Regions from separate parts of the Homo sapiens genome. Here all the other regions are linked to region 1. Evidence: fine-mapped expression QTL. A gene starts in region 1. Each other region holds a variant in brackets. All regions are shown on one strand. Distances are between the middles of the regions.

Region 1 (5,000 bases):
GAACTAAAGCTGTGGAAACGTTGAGTAAGTTACCCAATCAGAAAACGAAAGCTCAGATGTGTCTGACTATATCACCATGCCAGACCTTGACCATGCTGGTCCAGGCTGGACCTGGGTTGTATTTTTCATTGCTCTTGTAATTACTTTTTTATTTATTAATTTAATTTAATTAATTTATTTATTTTTAAGACAGAGTTTTGCTCTTGTTGCCCAAGCTGGAATGCAATGGCATGATCTCGGCTCACTGCAACCTCTGCCTCCCAGGTTCAAGCAGTTCTCCTGCCTCAGCCTCATGAGTAGCTGGGATTACAAGTACACGCCACCACGCTCAACTAATTTTTTGTATTTTTGGTAGAAATGGGGTTTCACCATGTTAGCCAGGCTGGTCTTGAACTCCTGACCTCAGGTCATCTGCCCGCCTCGGCCTCCAAAAGTGCTGGGATTACAAGTGTGAGCCACCGCATCCAGCCTGCACTTGTAATTACTTAATGTCCATTTTCCCTACTAGACTGAGGTCATGGAACCTTATTTTCTGTTTGTCACCCTATCCCTAATGTCTAAGCAGCAGACAGTCATTATTTGTTGATTGCTGTCTTCATCAGCCACTCACTGGGTTAACCCTCATTTAACTTCACATCCTTTGAATTATTGTTTACAGCATTGCATGTCAACTAGTGTGTAATGGATAATGTTTCAGGCCATCAGGTATCTTCTAGAAACCCCTTTGTTCATCTACCAAAGGTCAAATAAAAGGTTGGATTCTAGGTCCTCTTCTCCTCCCTAAGCCACACCTACACTTGTCCTAGGTAAAAAATTACACTGAAAGTTTTTTTCCCTTTTATTGTTTTTACTAAAAGATGCTTTCCCGCCACTCCTTCAGTATCACAGGTCAAACGTGGTAAAAAATGTTTTTTAAAAAAATTTGAGACAGGGTCTCACTCTGTCACCCAGGCTGGAGTGCAGTGGGGCGTTTACAGCTCACTGCAGTCTCCACCTCCCAGGCTCAAGCAACCCCCCACCTCAGCCTCCCGGAAAAGATGCTTTTTAAAATTACTCTTGGCAATAACTATGGCAATGTAGCATTGGTTTCTGTTGAGTATAATCTTTTTGTTTGTTTTTTGAGACGGAGTCTAGCTCTGTCGCCCAGGCTGAAGTGCAGTGGCGCCATCTTGGCTCACTGCAACCTCCGCCCCGCGGGGTTCCCGCCATTCTCCTGCCTCAGCCTCCCCAATAGCTGGGACTACAGACGCCCGCCACCACGCCCGGCTAATTTTTTTTTGGTATTTTTAGTAGAGACGGGGTTTCAGTGTGTTAGGATGGTCTCGATCTCCTGACCTCGCGATCCGCCTGCCTTGGACTCCCAAAGTGCTGGGATTACAGGCGTGAGCCAACGGCGAGTATAATCTTTCAAACCACTTTTCTCATTAACAGTAAGTAGGACTTTCTCTTAATAGGTACAAGCTTCTTACTCTTTTAATATATAGCTAAAACGATTGTTTTTTCCCTATTTTTAAAATAGAGGGATCAATGAAATCAGGTTCAGGAAAAAATTATGAGTTATCCTTAGGGCAAAAATGGGGATCAATTTACAAATGGGGCAGTAACTGGGACTATTATAACCTCTAGGTCTGTTTATCATGTGATCATACAACATATTAATTCATGCCCTCCCATCTGCAAAATGGCAATACTAATTTTTTTTTCCTCCCTGCTTTGCAGAGATGAGGTAAAGGGTGGTTGCCAGCAAAATGCAGACACATCCACAAATTAAAGGTACCAGAAAGTAAAACATAGTAAACACTGTTACCTTATTTATATCCCAGAGAACCAGCTTGCTTTTAAGTTTAGCAAATTCATAGGCAGTCAGTCTCCCAATTCCATGCCCAGCTCCTGTAATCAGCACGATTTCGCCGGTGACTGATTTTCTCCTCTTAGGAATAAAAAGCTTCACGAAGGACTCTAGGGAGCAGACGATCAGTAACGGGAGAAGCAGGAGGATGTCCAGAAGAAATTTCATCCCTTTTGTGGCTGCGAGCGTTTGGTGTGTTTTTTTTTTTTTTTACCACTCTAAACTGCTTTTAGAGGGTAGCTCGATCTAACACCAGAAAGAGTAGGGGCGAGAGCAAGGAGGAACTCCCGTATCAAAGAAAAACAACTCCGAAACCGTTCCTTCCGCTGGGCTGGGCTTTGTTGGTCTTTCGCAATTGGCTCGGGCTGCAGTGCTTGCTAGCTCAGAGATCTGGGAGGGACGAAGTCCAGACCGGAGCAAAGCTTCCTAGTTCTGCTTTGCGCAGCCCCCACGCGGTGTGTGGCCGCGATTGTCTTTTACACCACTTTCTCCCGGTGTCGTGAGCCGGCCTTGGAGGGTTAGTTGCTCACTTGTTTTCCTAAATTGGATAAGTTCCAAGGATAACCGACAGTGTCCACAGGCCAGATGCTTCTTTCATAGTTGAAGGTTGCTTATCACTAGATAGGGGGTGCCGCTGGGCGCGGCGGCTCTCGCCTGTGATCCTGGCACTTTGAGAAGCCCTGGCGGGAGGATCGCTTGACCCCAGGAGTTCGAGATCAGCCTGAACAACATAGGGAGACCCCCGGTCTCTTTTTTTTTTTTTTTAATTAGCCAGGCGTAGTGGCGTGTGCCTGTAGTTCCAGCTACTCGAGAGACTGAGGCACGGGAATTGCTTGAGTCCAGGAGGTGGAGGCTACAGTGAGTGAAGATCGCGCCACTGCACTCCAGCCTGGACGAAAAGGCCAGACTTTGTCCTAAAAAACAAAAACTAGATAGAGGATGCAAATGTAGATTCCTATCTTAAAGGATCCTGAAAAGACCAATCGTTCTGCTTCCAGCTGAGAAATTGCGCTACATCACATTTTAGTTTGAACTAAGCACGATTTCTGGAAGACAGGGGAAATTTTGTCTGTTCAAGGACAGCTTCAATCAAGCGCCAGAAAAAATTGTTATCGTATTAAAGGGATTGTTTCCACAAGAAAGAAGAGTATATTTGAATAATCATTTTTCACTTGACCTATTAGAGTTTGAAAATAAAAAATATATGTTGTACTTTAGGAATTTTATCTTTATTCAAGTGAATAAATAGCAAATCATTTAGCCTAAAGATTACCTATGTAACATTTGGTTTTGTAGCCTATATAAATGGGTATTCAGTATATGCTAACTAGTGACTTGAAAAAATTCTAGAGATTGGTTACTGGAAGAAAAGACCTAACTAGGGCTTGTGTCCAGTAAGAGCTTAATAATGGTATTGCATGCATTTTTTTCCAACTCATTTTTGACAGACATTGGATTTGGGTTTTGCGCAAGACACTCCAGTGCTTGGGAAGGGACTTTGTTGTGTGACAATAGTCAACTTTCATATTTAAGAGCCAGAAAGATCACACAAAAAAATCAAAGTTCACAAATAGTTCAAACTCGATTGTCCCTCTTACTTAAGCAGCCATACGTTGTTATAGGGGATGAAGGGATAGTGGCAGCCTCACAAAAGTGAACCCCATTATAGAATTCTTTGAATTCAGAATATCTACAACTTTTTTTTGGATAGCCTCCAAATCCAAATTTACAAAACACTTGTATAGAAAGTTTACAAAGTGTTCTTCCACATATATTATTTCATTTGATTTTCAAAAGCCTCCTAGGAAATAGAGAAAAGTAGAGTCAGGATATATTTATACCTATACTGTAAATGAATAAATCTGTTAGATCAACTTTAAAATCTACACAGTGAGTAAAAGTGTAACTGGGGCTACACATATGTTCAGTGTTTGTCAATTTTTTGGTCCAACACCTACAGGAATAAATTACATCTGACATGGTGATCTACTATAAGAAGTGTTTCAACTATGTTGAGTTTCATATATTGAGGCTCTAGCTATGCTATTTTTTTTTTTTTTAAAGGAGTCTCCCTCTGTCTCCAGGCTGGAGTGCAGTGGCGAAATCTTGGCTCACAGCAACCTCAACCTCCACCTCCCAGGTTCAAGCGATTCTCCTGCCTCAGCCTCCCAAGTAGCTGGGACTACAGGCACGCACCACCACACCCAGCTAATTTTTGTATTTTTAGTAGACAGGGTTTCCCCATGTTGGCTAGGATGGTCTCAATCTCGATCTCCTGTTCCACCCACCTTGGTCTTCCCAAGTGCTGGGATTACAGGCGTGAGCCATGGCACACGGTCTGGCTATGCTATTTCTTATTCCATTCTATTAATTAAAAAAAACTGGGTAGTTTTAACCTACAGTTGATCAAGGTTTCATTGGTTAAGGGAAAGAACACAGCATTTGGACGCAGTCGTACCTGAATCCCTTATGTGTATGTGACTTCATCTCTCTAAACATGTTTCTAAATTTGTAAAATTGAAATAATACTTACCCTACAGGATTCTTGTGACGTTCAAACGAGTTAATAGAAAGCACATTGCTTTATCAACTATTCAACTTTATGTAAATTATAATTAACACCAATAGAATGTGAGTGATGTGAATGGTCTTGTGAATGATGGTTGTAACATGATTTTGTGAACAGCAAACTAGATGTTTACAATTAAAATCATTCACAGTTAGAACACAGATTAGCTTCTATCTGACCACTATGTGATTTTATGTATTTGTGGTTTTAAAAAACATCTTTCATTGGTAGGGTTTAAAATATTTTGTACTTGGGACATCTGTTTTTTAAAAAATTTTTTATCTATTTATTTTGAGACCGGATTATGAGACTAGCTAATTTTTGTATTTTTGATAGAGGCAGGGTGTCCCTACCCTGGTAGAGGCTGGTCTTGAACTCCTGGGCTCAACCAATTCACCGGCCTTGGCCTCCCAAAGTGCTAGGATTACAAGTGCGAGCCACTGCACCCAGCCTATGTGGGGCATCTTAATTACATGCTGCCTTCCCAGAAGTTGAAATAGTATTTAAAAAAAAAAAAAAAAGATAAGGATAAGGGGGTATTTTTCTTTAATTTTTTTTTTTAAACCCTAACTTGAACCAGAA
Region 2 (6,984 bases), 26 kb before region 1:
GAAGAGACCCCTGACCCAAAGGAAAATCATCAGGGCACAACAGTGGGCTGACTTTGAGTAAGTGGGGTGCCTACACCTGGGTAAAGAATGGGATTGGGTTAGAGGCCCAACTTAGGGGAGTTAGAGTCTCTCCTAAGACAGAGTGGGTTACAGGTCCTTCTTAATAAAAGGCAAGGACACTTGACTGACGTCAAGTTAGAGGCCTGACTTAGGAGGATTAGAGTCCCTTCTAAGATTTAGGAGGTTAGGCCAGGTGCAGTGGCTCACGCCTGTAATCCCCAGCACTGTGGGAGGCCAAGGCGGGTGGATCACTTGAGGTCAGGAGTTCGAGACCAGCTTGGCCAACACGGTGAAACCCGGTCTCTACTAAAAATACAAAAATTAGCCAGACGTGGTGATGCATGCCTGTAATCCCAGCTACTCAGGACACTGAGGCAGGAGAATTGCTTGAACCCGGGAGGCCGAGGTTGCAGTGAGCCGAGATTGTGCTGCTGCACTCCAGCCTGGCCAACAGAGCGAGACTCCATCTCAAAAATAAAATATAATAAAATAATAAATAAAATGAATAAGATTTAGGGGGTTAGAGGACCCTCTCAGTAAAGTCCCTTTCAGCTAAGAACAGGTTTGGCACTATGGGATGTTAACTGCTGTTCTCTTTGGATTAATCTGCCTTTGTACTCTTTGCTGATGGCTATGGGTGACAGGGTTAGGCATGCACAGGATCGTGGGACATGGGGAGCTTTTTCCTGCCTAAAAGGGGAAACTTGAGAGCTGACAGGATTGCTGAAAAAGATCCCTGCTCAACCGACAGCAGCAGCCTGAAGTTTTCAGTGTTGCTGCAATAGGTGGGTCTTTCTCTGGCCTCCCTGATCATTTTGCCTTCCCCACCCTGCCACAGGCAATACTTTCCGTCTCTACTTTTCCTTTCCCTTTCTTATCTTTTCTATTTCTCAGGGCGACCTTCTTGCCCAGAGACCACATGTTGAAATTCCAAGTCAGAGGTTGGATTAAAGATGATGGGGCCCAACTGGGGGTAAATTTAAGCCTTGCCAGTTTGATATTGGGTGCTAAGCAGAGTAGCTAATGTCTATGTTTTATCATGCATATTTTGCTCTGGTCAAAATGAAAAAAAAAATTTTTTTCCTTTATGATGCAGCTTGGCCCCCGGGGAGATGGTGCCACAAGCCCGATCACTAGGGCTGCTCAGGGAAAAGGAACCCAGAAGCCTGGCATGCCAGCAAAAGGCTAAGAATTTGTTACCAGTCAGATTTTTAGCTTCTCTCTCTCTGTGCAAACAGTTGAATGAATGGAAAAAAAATCAGTGTTTATCACCTCTGTAAAGACTTAATTAATGCGAAAAAGAATTCTAAGGCTAGTCTTAAGCTGGTGTATTTTGTGCTATGAATTCGTTTTTCCGTGTAGAGGGGTACTTCAGGATAAAACATGGGCTTAGAACACCTGTAAGCCCGCTTTTCAAGACTACCCAGCAAGCTGGTCAGTAACAAACTTGGTTGCAGGTCCCTGAAACAAACAAAAAACCCGATGAAGTCTCCACCTTGTTTTATGTGCTTGGGAGCTTGACCTTTTAACCGCATGGCAGTACCTTCTCTTGGGCTCTGTCTTCCAGGGAACAAGAATTTTAAAGTTCATGTCATAGCCAGCTCTGAAAATCATATTAAATAGTTAAAAGCCTTTGCAAGCTCAAAATTAACTAATCTAGACTACTTCTGAGAAAAGAAATAGACACTGCCCAGACCTGTAGCTCAGTAGCTAAGGTTTTGCACTTTCACAGTGGCAGTCTAGGTTCAATTCCCCACCCAGGAAATAAGTCATTACTGATTTAATATATGTGTCTATTCTCTTCTCCTCCATGGACTGTCTTCAATTTTCCTTCTTCTAAGCACCTAGGAGTTTACCTTTGGTAAAGTTCAGAAGCTGGAAATATTGGCCGCTTGGCATGGCTAAAGTCGGGTAATAAGAGCTCTGAAAGGATTTCTTCTTTAAAGAGCACTATGGTGAAAAGTCAGCTTAATTAAAAGTGGAATAAGCTATAAATATATTTAAAAGGCCTTTATGTTTTTCTCTTCTTGAAGCTTGTTTTGCTGGAAAAAGGTTTTTTCTTCTCAGTCAAGTGAATTATTTTTGTTTTTTTGTTTTGTTTTGTTTTGTTTTGTCTTGTTACTATTAATGCTCACATGAAAGGCCCGTAGATAACTTCTGGTAGCTTGGGACTACTTGGGAAAAACAAAGGCAGCACCACAGATCCAGTTTTGGGAAAAAAAAAAAAAAAAGAAAAAAAACCCCTCTGTTTTCCTCATGAGACCCCAAGAATTAAAAGCAGATAGATTCCTCTCAAAATCAAAGGCTCTGTTCTGTTTTGCATTGTGTTATCTGACGGTTTTGAGTTTGGGGGAGGGGGGTTATCAGCAATTACTTTGCATTATGAGAGAGCTTTGGTGTGTAACAACTAGGTAGGAAATGTACTTTAAGGGGTGGCTAATAGTAGTTATGGAGGGATACTTGACTCTGCACACTTGGATCAGAGAAGCATGCTCTAGGCCACCTGGAAGATAAGGCAACATCCTCACCCCTCACTGGGAGATGAGACTCTCATGAGGATGGGCTGATTACAAAATGGGCTGATTGGCTTTAGGTTGCCTTGCAATGAAATGCACAGTCGGTAAAAGCACTGCATTGTCTTCTCCCGTAGTATTTCCCTCCTTTTGGGGATCCAGGATCCAGTATAAAATACCACCTTTAATTTTGGAGATCTGTCTGCCTTCAGCTGCTTATTTGCTACTTATTTAGCCCTAGAAATGCATGCTGTCCCAGCTCTGTTCCTCCAAGGGCTCCACTCTGAAACCTGTCATCCAATTAAGAAACTGGCAAATGGTGGGGCGAGGTGGCTCATGCCTGTAATCCCAGCACTTTGGGAGGCTGAGGTGGGCGGATCACTTGAGGTCAGGAGTTCAAGACCAGCCTGGCCAACATGGGGAAAACCCGTCTCTAGTAAAAATACAAAAATTAGCTGGGTGTGGTGGTGGGCGCCTGTAATCCCAGCTACGCGGGAGGCTGAGGCATGAGAATCACTTGAACCTGGGAGGCAGAGGTTGCAGTGAGCCAAGATCATGCCACTGCACTCCAGCCTGGGTGACAAGAGCGAAACTTTGTCTCAAAAAAAAAGAAACTGGCAAACGAAAAACTGTATAAGTGCTGAATCTTCTATTTATAGTGTATGTTTATATATTACAAAGCTCTAAT[C/T]AATTGACTTAGAAAAGTAAGTGCGTAAATATTTTTTCAGAAAAATAGAAACTAATGCCTTTTTGTTCGTGTGACTTTAGTAATCTTTTGAAAATAAAGACAGTTTTAAAGTTTATTGGTAAAATAAAATGTCTTAAAAATGTAGACATTTGGTCTAAATTAAGGTCAGATATCAGATTTGCTAAATGCTTTAAGGACAAACTGTTTCTTTAACTTTTGAAAACTGTTCTATTTACCTACTTTAAAGCCATCAGATTCTAGATAAGGCCTCATGCCCCTGGCTATGCTGGAGAGTCAGCCCTTATCTGCACTTCTGCCTGGTGTGTCCTAGACTAGTCTCCACACCTAGTACATAATTAAAATCCCTTACTTAACCAACGTTTTCATCAAAAATAAAAGTTGCTAGAAGTTAGCATTGTAATGTGTAATTAAGACTACTGAAGAAACAGTTTTACATGCAAGGTGTATAAAAAAGGTGAAATGTGTTTTTGGTTAAAAAAAAAATTGTAAGAAGAAGCATGGGAATGCGGATTATTTTCTGCCTAGATTAAAGTGTTAAAGGATTGTGTTAAGTGAAAAAAAAAAAAAGATTTAAAGAAGTTGTGGAAGGTTTTTTTTAGATGGAGTTTTGTTCTTGTTGCCCAGGCTGGAGTGCAATGGCGTGATCTTGACTCACCGCAACCTCTGCTTCCCGGGTTCAAGCAATTCTTCTGTCTCAGCCTCCCAGGTAGCTGGGATTACAGGCATGTGCCACCATGCCTGGCTAATTTTGTATTTTTAGTAGAGACAGGGTTTCTCCATGTTGATCAGGCTGGTCTTGAACTTCCGACCTCAGGTGATCCACCCATCTTGGCCTCCCAAAGTGTTGGGATATACAGGTGTGAGCCACTGCACCTGGCCTTTGTGGAAGGTTTATAAAAATTAATTGTAAGAGATTCTGTGTATGAACATATTAGCTAAAGTTAAAGGGGTATTATTCAGTTTTTCCATAAATTAAACATTGGAATAAAAGCACAACAGGTTTCTCTTAGAGGACTTATCTGCGCTTTCACAAAAAAATGTAAAGGGTTATAAAGGTTTATAAAATCTTACCTTAGGATTAAACATTAAAATTGGGTAAATATGTCTCTAAGGTTTTATTAAAAATTGGGTTTAACATTAATAATACATTAATGTAAAGGTGAAATTTCGCTTATTTGGTATAAAAATCATCCAGGAAGCATTCTCAAATGTGAAACAGTGTTTTGCTTTCTTTGGACTATATTTGTATAAATATGTTATTGGTATATGTTCCAAAGTTATAAGAAACTCCTTTATTTCTAATATGACTTAGTGTATGTTACTAATAATTATAATTGTTATGTAAAATTTTGTATGCCACAAAAGTAACCAAATTTCCTTATCAATTGTGGCTTTAATAGTGGCTGTCCTAAAGTTTTTATCATCCACAGACAGTTGTTGTCTTGTTTTAATCTTCTTTAAAAGGTGGTTTATAATCAACTATAGAATTCTAGCAGATGTTCTTAAATGCAGGTTGCTAATAACTTTAGAAATTGTAACATTAAAATAAAGAAAACAACTTTCGAAACTCTCATAAAAAGCTGGAATGTTCATGAATAACAAGTAGAACAGGAGTTAACTGAATTAACTGAACCAATAGAAAACTGAAGTAATTTTTTTTAACTTTGCTTAAAATATTGCTGATCTTTTATTTTTCAAAGGAAACTTCTTTTAAGCTATTTACAGCTTGCAGCAATTAAGTAAAATATACTCCTATGAACAAAATTTGAAACATATTTGTTTCTCTCTACCTGATTTCTCCGGAATGGAAACCAATTGTAAGTATTCTTAACTTATGGCAATATAGTTGTTTGTATAAGTGCAACAAAAATCTGTTTTCTTTTGTAATGGGACACTATTGGAGAAATTGGTTATTTTACCAAGGCTTTGACTGGAATGGTGTGCTTTCCTTTAAAGAATCAAACTTGACTTGTAAAGCCAATAAAAGCCCTATGGGAAACTGGCCTCATACTTTGCCTACACAGTCCCTGTACAGGGTTTCTGACCTATGGTAAGTAAAGAATGTCACTTTCTTACAGGTCCAGGAGGCCCAAGTTAACTTGGGACCTCAAAAGAAAAGTGTTTTACCCAACTCATAGGTATTTAAGGGTACAAACCCATGGCAGGGCTTAGCTTTAAAAAAGTCTTACCTGAGATTCCTTATAAAACAGAGTTCCATCAAAGCCAATTAAAAAGCCTGTGTGAAAAATAATTATTCTCGCTGCACTTTATACAAATAATCAGACCAAGTATAATAAAGCAAATCAGTCTTACCATAATGTGTCTTTAATAAAAATGGGAAACTGGAGAGAGAATATTATATTTCAAGAACTATAGTATACTTGTTATTAAATTCTAGTCTCAGTTGTTTTTAAGTTTGTTTCTGCAATTTAGGCTAACCCTGTTTATTCCTGTAAACCAACCAGGGATCTCTAACTGCTGCTCAGAAGAAACAAGAGGGATGGGTAATGTAAAATTCTAGGCACATTGCAATCAGCTAGCAACCCCATATCAGCTTGGTCTCAACAGTTGCCCAGTTCATGGAAAGCCTTCTAATTTAGTTTACTTGGAATAACTTTACTTACTTTGCTTTACTCTTATGGAATATATTGCTGTTATACCCTTTGTGTGGGAACACAGGACAGGCTTACTAAATGTTTTCTTAAACTAAATACTTATTAATCTCCCAGATATCACCTCTTGTCAAAACTCAAGAGTCGGCTAGGCACGGTGGCTCATGCCTGTAATCCCAGCACTTTGGGGGGCCGAGGCGGGTGGATCACAAGGTCAGGAGATCAAGACCATCCTGGCTAACATGGTGAAATCCCGTCTCTACTAAAAATACAAAAAATTAGCCGGGTGTGGTGGCGGGCACCTGTAGTCCCAGCTACTCAGGAGGCTGAGGCAGGAGAATGGCATGAACCCGGGAGGCAGAGTTTGCAGCGAGCTGAGATCGCACCACTGCACTCCAGCCTGGGTGACAGAGCGAGACTCCATCTCAAAAAAACAAAAAACACACACACAAAAAACTCAAGAGTCATGAATGGCCCTCGCCACACTGATGCTTTCTGACTAAGCTCCTCTCTACCCTGAACACAAGAGACCCTAACAGTTAGGCAGGAATATCATGGCCCCATTCAGCCTGAAGAAGTTACAAAAGATGGATTTTCATCCGTCTGCAACTCTTAGGATTAAGAGTTCTCTTATAAAAGGGAAGGGGGAAATGTCAAGAGGCATGTGAAACAGAACAACTCCATCTTGAATAGGAGCTGGGTAAAATGAGGCTGAAACCTACCGGACTGCATTCCCAGACTGTTAACGCATTCTAAGTCACAGGATGAGATAGGAGGTCAGCACAAAATACAGGTCATAAAGACCTCGCTGATGATAAAACAGGTTACAGTAAAGGAGATGGCCAAAACCCATTAAAACCAAAATGGCCACGAGAGTGACCTCTGGTCGTCCTCACTGCTACACTCCCACCAGCGCATGACAGTTTACAAATGCCATGGCAATGGCAGGAAGTTACCCTACATGGTCTAAAAAGGGGAGGCATGAATAACAAACTGCTTGTTTAGCAGATCATCAAGAAATAACCATAAAAATGGGCAACCAGCAGCCCTTAGGGCTGCTCTGTCTATGGAGTAGCCATTCTTTTATTCC
Region 3 (6,984 bases), 89 kb before region 1:
AAGATTTGCCCTGTCACCCAAATTAATCATGCTGTCTATTCACAAAGCACTTGGTTAGTAACTTTTCAAAGGGACTAACCCTATTTTTCTTTGAGTGAGTTGTTATTTACAAACAGGCTGGATTAGCTGATCTGTTGTAAACATCTTTAAAGCAAGGATCACATCTTCCTCTCTGATTTTTCTACATTCTAGCATCATGTATTTCCTATCAAAGTTGCCGAGTGAATATCTTTTCTTGAATGAATTGTAGAAAAAGCCTTGTTTTGGCTTGAAAAAGTCTATGAGTTGTTGTAGTTTATCTTGAATATTTCTACATTAAATTCACCAGCATAGAAAATAATACTCTCAAATGTGCAATATTGTTAGATAACAAGGTACACTGGAACTGCAATATTGTTTGAAATATTTAAATCACATCATTCCAAATTGAATTCAACATCAAGTGGTCTTTTTTTTTTTCCTGCTACATAGGTAATACAGGATAGTTTTGATGACTGAAAAATAGGCTATGTTTCCAGACTAGATTAGAATGTGGGGAGAAGCTTAGAAAGAGAAGGCTGAAAAGAGAAAGAGAACAATGGAAGAGAAGTAGAGAACTAAATGCATCAAATTAATTGAACGAAGTCTGAACTAATTAGTAAAGAGCCATCAGAAGGAAAGAGGTGTTGAGAAACAGAAAGTCAAAAAATCCAGGGCTGGGTGCAGTGACTCACGCCCATAATCTCAGCACTTTGGGAGGCCGAGGCGGGCTGATCACTGGAGGCCAGGAGTTCGAGACCAGTCTGGCCAACATAGTGAAACCCTGTCTCTACTAAAAGTACAAAAATTAGCTGGATGTAGTGGTGCATGCCTATAAACCCAGGTACTCAGGAGGCTGAGGCTGGAGAATCCCTTGAACCCGGGAAATGGAGGCTGCAGTGAGCCAAGATCACACCACTGCACTCCAGCCTGGGTGACAAAGTGAGACTCTGTCTCAAAAAGAAAAAAAAAAAAGTGAAAAATCCTAGTTATTGGAATTAGGTATGGGAACAGGCAATTTGGTTTTCAGTGTTGTTTGGGAATATTTAAGTCTTAATTTATACAAGTTAGCCTCACATTTAAAAGTAAGAAGATCTCTATTGAGATAATGGATCATTACTGGAGTGCAATTGGTAAATGACTTCACTTTTCATAAGTGTTTTGATGTGAATTTATGAATATTCTCTAGCTGCTCACTGGGTTTGTGAAGTTAGTTTGAATGAGACATGATTGCACCCTAGGCAAGTCAGAATGTACTTGCTTTGATTTCACTGTGATTACTTTTACTATAAAAGATTCCCATTAAATACAAGTAAGTTCCCACTTAACTTTCCTGTAATTCCACCCTTGCTGCAAGCAGCTGACAGGCAAATTTGATCAGATGTAATACATCCAATCAGATAAAGAAGGGGTTTCAGCAAAACACTTGGCAGATTTGAAGAGCTGAATAGAAAAGGTCATGAGCTGTCTGAAAACTTTTAGACACAAGAGGAAGCAAATAGTAGAAAGCGTGAGAGCACTCTTAGGACAGGGATTGGCATTTCCCCCTTACGGTTTCTCACGTAATTTGTGAAGACATAAACACAAGGGTAACTGTTAAATTCGTTGTAATTATCACATGTACAGAACAGCCCAGTTCACATAATGCTGCACTAAATTCAAAGTTAGTGTTATAAAAAAAGATGCCTCTAAAACATATGAATTACCTAGGAGTTTTTAAAAAATGCAGATTCTGATTTTGTAAGTTTGAGATGGGTTGCAACAGTTTGTATTTCCAACATGCCTCTCATGCGGCAGCCATGCTGCAAGGGCATGTTTAAACTTCCCCATTTACACAGGCCATGAGCCCCGAAACACCCATCAGCAATCCTGGGATGGGTGTTTCGGGGCTCATGGCCTGTGTAAATGGGGAACTTTAATGTTAGATGTTCATTCCATCTTTGGAAACATTATTATATAGATCATATAAGATTTAGATTAGAAACTAACCAAGCATTTTCTCTTCAACCATACATTTACTCTGCTACTCCTTTAAGCTTTGCATACAGTTGAAGATTGGCTGTACCTATACCACCCTCAGATCTGAGCAAGTGAGGGCCTTACCCCAGTCCTGTGCCTCATAGAGCCTTATTCTTTGGAGTGCCCTCTATGAAATTTTCCAAGTCCTCTTCGGATGCCTGCTCTGTTTTTTCTCTCTGGGGTACTCTCCCTTTCTCTCCCTGTGTATAAGGTTGACCAGATATCCTGGGGAGCTCTGCAACTTGTAACTATAGGATCATCCTGGGGTCTTGTTTCCAGGCTTTCGTTTCAGGAGGGTGGCCTGGAGAGCAGACTGCTACTTCTGGTTGGCAAAGAATTTCTTTTGCAGGATTACATGAAATTTGGCTGCCAGAATGATGCTGACATGCTGATTTTGGATAATTCTCACTCACATTGGGCATAGATCTAATTTAGGGTTGTAAGCTATCTAAGGTCCACTGCCCAAGCCGCATGTGTTGACCCATGCATCCACTCGCAGTTTGTTCTGAGTATGATGCCACTTCTGCTATATAACATCCAAGGGCTGCAGGGTGACATCAGATGTCCTTACCCCGCTTGCCAATGGCATTCAGGAAAATCATCCTATCCCCTCTGCAGGTTCTATGCCATGGGTCAGGCAGTCCTTTTGGCTGGGGGTTGGGGGGTGGCTGCACTTATCTCTTCTGAGGGCTTTTAAGACTATTGCTTCTTCACAACAGTGGGCCTTTCTGACTGATGTGATGATGCTGTGTTCTCTTCTCCCTGGTCAATGTTAAGCTCTCCTAGAGGAGGGACAGACATTCCTTGTGCAAATGGGGCTGTTCATTTTGTTCTGTCCACAATCCCCTCTCTGCTGCTGGTGGTGTGTGGGAGGTAGGGTACGGTCAGGAGTGGCAGAGATCAATTCTAGAAATGTAATGATGATGGCCTAAAAAGTTCAAGACAAGACACAGTTGAAAGATGTGTTGTTCTATGTGATGCTATAACATTCTAAATGATAAATTTAAAATGAGCAATAAACAACGAATCATTCATGTTTTCTCGTATATATACCCTGGGTAAGACTTGAATTTGTGATTATCATCAAACATTGTACCAGTAACAATTGTACTATATTGAACTGTGTTGTACCAGTAACAATCTTTGAGTGATTGTCTCTGAGTGATACCCAGTATTCATGGGTAGCACAATGGATGATGCAATGTCAAAAGGCATAATGTAGCTAAGATTAAATAAATGGTAGCAGGGTATTGGAAAGGGGTGAAGATTCATATTATTTTATTACAAACATATTACAAAGAGCCATGGCATTATGAATAATAACAGCATTGCTACCCTTTCTTGTGGTAAAAGATATGAAATTAGCTAGGAATGGCTCATTTGATAAAAAAGAAATGATTCCTGGACCAAAGAGATAGTACCAGGATGCCGAGAAGAATCTTTACATGTACTGCTCGGACAATAAATACACAAATCTTCCTATTATTCTAAATCTTTATCAAAAAATCACTATACTGCATGCACATGGACCTATAAATTTTATAAAGCATTTTTAATAAAAGTGTTTATATAGATAGAAGCCCTGCAAAAAAATATTTGTCTGGTGATCTGCACATCCTAGCAGTAGCCCTTGGAACTGGGATTTTGGTGAAAGAGAGGGCTCTTAGAGAGAATTATAGATGAAGATTGTCATAGGAAAACATTTGGAAGCTCAGGTGGAGCTTTTTATTTTTTTGAGACGGAGTCTCACTCTGTTGCCCAGGCTGGAGTGCGGTGGCGTGATCTTAGCTCACTGCAACCTCCGCCTCCCAGGTTCAAGTGATTCTCCTGCCTCAGCC[T/A]CCTGAGTAGCTGGGATTACAGGCATGTACCACCATGCCCAGCTAAATTTTGTATATTTAGTAGAGACAGGGTTTCGCCTTGTTGGCCAGGCTGGTCTCGAACCCCTGACCTCAGGTGATCTGCCCCCCTTGGCCTCCCAAAGTGCTAGGATTACAAGCATGAGTCACCACGCCTGGCTGCAGGTGGAACTTTTAAGGAGGAGGACTACACTCAAAATAAGCAAGAAAAATGGACAAAGAGAGATGAATATTTTGCTCGCACATTTCTCTGAGCTTCATTCATAAAAGATTAAAACCAAAATGGAATTAAAATAAGAAGTTTTCTGCTCTGAACTTAACACTGGAATTTAAGAGGTTTCTATTTTTGTCAATATGTATATCATAAAATATTTTTTAGTTGCCTGTGTATGGTAATAGTTCGTCCGCAAAATGTTCTTTCTCAGCGTGCTCTTCCCTGACTCTACTACTTTAAATGCTCTCTCTCATATTTGCAGTCCCTTTATTGTTTGTCCCACCTACTAGAATGTGAGCTCTGTTAAGACAAGGAGTTTGCCTTATTCATATATGTTTCCCTGGGCCTAGAACTTTGAGGGCACTCAGTATTTGTTAAATTAATATTTAAATAGATGAACTAAGAAATACTGGAAACATCCTAAGTGCCTATCAAAAGGGAATGGTTAGAGTACCATTTTAGTACTGTGTACTCATGAAAAAAAGTTGAATTCTCTATACTGAAACAAACAGCTGTTTGTGATAAGTTGGTAAGCTAAAAGAGCAAGTTACAGAACATAATGTATGGTATGAAACTACTGATACGACCCATGCAATAAGAATATAATGTATTTGTCATGAACATGCATCAGTAAAAGACTGGAAGATTGTGCATTGACAGTGTGACCTCTGGGAAATGGGATTGCTGGGGGTAAGCTTCTATTTTTTACTTTCCATGTTTCTCTTTTGAATTTTTGTAACCATACTTTAAAAATAATACATTTTACTCATAAATTTCTTGATTATAAGGCAAGAAATTAAAAGAATGTTATGAAAAAAATTATTGCCGGTGACTAAGAAAAAAAATTAGAAACAATAGCACTGTGCTTAATCTCACACATAGAAAGGGGTCAGTAAGTTCCAGTTGATAAACCAGCACTCCTGCTGTCAAAGAAACCAGAGTTGAGAAAACCCCTGGATTCATTTAATAACTGCCAGATGTAGCTGTTACCATCCACATCCTTGGTTCTTGAAGGACACTCATAGAGACAGAGTTTAGAAGTCAAACGTTTTATTTTATAACTACAAGAGGTTATTTTTTTAAAGCACAATGACATATTTATTTTTAGTGAATTGTTTTTGTGACTTTTAAAAAAATCATTTGTTTTTAATAAAAACAAGAGGATAGTCCATGCAAAAGCATTCTATAATACATGTGAAAAACACACAAAACAAGATTAGTCTTGATGTAGTGGGAGTCGGATTATTTTTTCTATTAAAAAAAAAAAGGCTGGGCACGGTGGCTCACACCCGTAATCCCAGCACTTTGGGAGGCCGAGGCAGGTGGATCACGAGGTCAGGAGATCGAGACCATCTTGGCTAACATGGTGAAACCCCGTCTCTACAAAAAATACAAAAAATTAGCCGGGTGTGGTGGCGGGCGCCTGTAGTCCCAGCTACTCAGGAGGCTGAGGCAGGAGAATGGCGTGAACCCGGGAGGTGGAGCTTGCAGTGAGCTGAGATCATACCACTGCACTCCAGCCTGGGCGAAAGAGTGAGACTCCATCTCAAAAAAACAAAAAACAAAACAAAACAAAACAAAAACCAAAAAACCTTTCTTTCTTCCTTTTCTTCTCTTGGGTCCATTGTTTCTTATGTAATAGCCAGTACAGTTCCTTTTCCTGTGTTAGCTTTAATTTTTGAGCCTAAAATTGTCTAAACATCTCTGGGACCAAGGATATATGAAAGCATAAATTACAAAGAAAAAGGTTATCATGGGGCTAGAACTTAAAATTCTGAGATTTAAAATAGAGTCGGTCACCTTTCATAATGTATCTTATAAGACTATAAAAAGGGAGGAAATATAGAGGGTCCACTTTTGGTGGACTTCAGAGTTATACAGAAGACAGAATCAAGTAATAAAGTCCAGAATAGAGTTGCACCGTTTTGGGCTAATGAAAAAGGAAGAGGCTAGGGAAATCTTTCAAATGCTGAATCTTAAAATATGTCCAGGTTGAGATAAAGCTGCCTGCTGAAACTTGATCTCTTAGCTGTGCACTCATTCTGTGTTCTTGTTGATATTCTGTGGCATGGCTACAGATTGGAATGCTACTTGAACAGTCTTAAACCTTCCCTGTGTAAATAAGTTCTCTTTGTATTTACTTTTAGGGAGGTAGCTTTTGTCCACCTTTAAATGGAAAAATAAAATATCTTAAAGAAAACCTTTTAAGTATGTTTATGTAAGCACAGAAGTTTTTAAGAGGCATGAAAGGAAAAACAGACCTATGAAAAACTACGTAAATATTCTTGAGAAACAGGAAGACAGGTAATTAATCTTGTTCGTTTGACTGCTGCTAGTGCCAAACCAATGTTTTTAATATTATCAGGACTGAAAAAATGTGAAATAAAGCTTTGCAGCATTGATTCGAAACTATTCATATCATTATCATGCATACATCTCTGGCTGGAGCTTATTTATTCATTTCATTTTGATTTTGTGGCCAACCACTGCTTCAAATTGAATATTCTGCATACGATTTAAAATCGCTGAGGCGCGTTCAGGAAGAAACCTGTACAAAAAAGAAAAAAAAATTGAAAAATTTTCCATTTAAAATCTTTGACAACAGAGTTCTGTTTTTGGTCATTTAGAATACGCTGAGAGTTATCTGGTTTGCGTTTAACTTTCCTCCGTTCTTTTCTTCTCTTGCAACCACCTCTCTTTTACGTGTGCATCTTTCTTTTTCTTTTTTTTTTTTGACATAACTTCATAGTGGACTTCATTAGGAAAAGTGTAAAAACATTCAAATTCATAAAATTGAAATGAGACAGTAAAATTATGCCTTGTGGCTATAGTAATTGCTATAGTAATCACAAGTAAGGTAAAGTCTAAATTATTGCC

The links. PIP is the estimated chance that this variant, and not a neighbour inherited with it, causes the effect.
Region 2: its variant is fine-mapped to the expression of HSD17B11 in whole blood (TOPMed, PIP above 0.99).
Region 3: its variant is fine-mapped to the expression of HSD17B11 in whole blood (INTERVAL, PIP above 0.99).

Annotation. Positions count from the first base shown.
Region 1 is chr4:87,389,054-87,394,053 of GRCh38, forward strand. HSD17B11 (hydroxysteroid 17-beta dehydrogenase 11) reads right to left here and starts at 2,135. Exons shown (of 7, transcript NM_016245.5): 1 at 1,808-2,135. The coding sequence starts at 2,017. RefSeq lists enhancers at 2,347-2,416, 2,430-3,002.
Region 2 is chr4:87,361,996-87,368,979 of GRCh38, forward strand. All of the region lies in intron 4 of HSD17B11 (hydroxysteroid 17-beta dehydrogenase 11), which reads right to left. Among named protein-coding and RNA genes, the nearest start is that of HSD17B11, 26 kb to the right of the region's middle. The variant C/T (reference allele first, on the strand shown) is at 3,262.
Region 3 is chr4:87,298,654-87,305,637 of GRCh38, forward strand. It overlaps HSD17B13 (hydroxysteroid 17-beta dehydrogenase 13), which reads right to left. Exons shown (of 7, transcript NM_178135.5): 7 at 5,141-6,655. The coding sequence ends at 6,565. It overlaps MIR5705 (microRNA 5705), which reads right to left and starts at 1,930; the gene lies at 1,842-1,930. The variant T/A (reference allele first, on the strand shown) is at 3,876.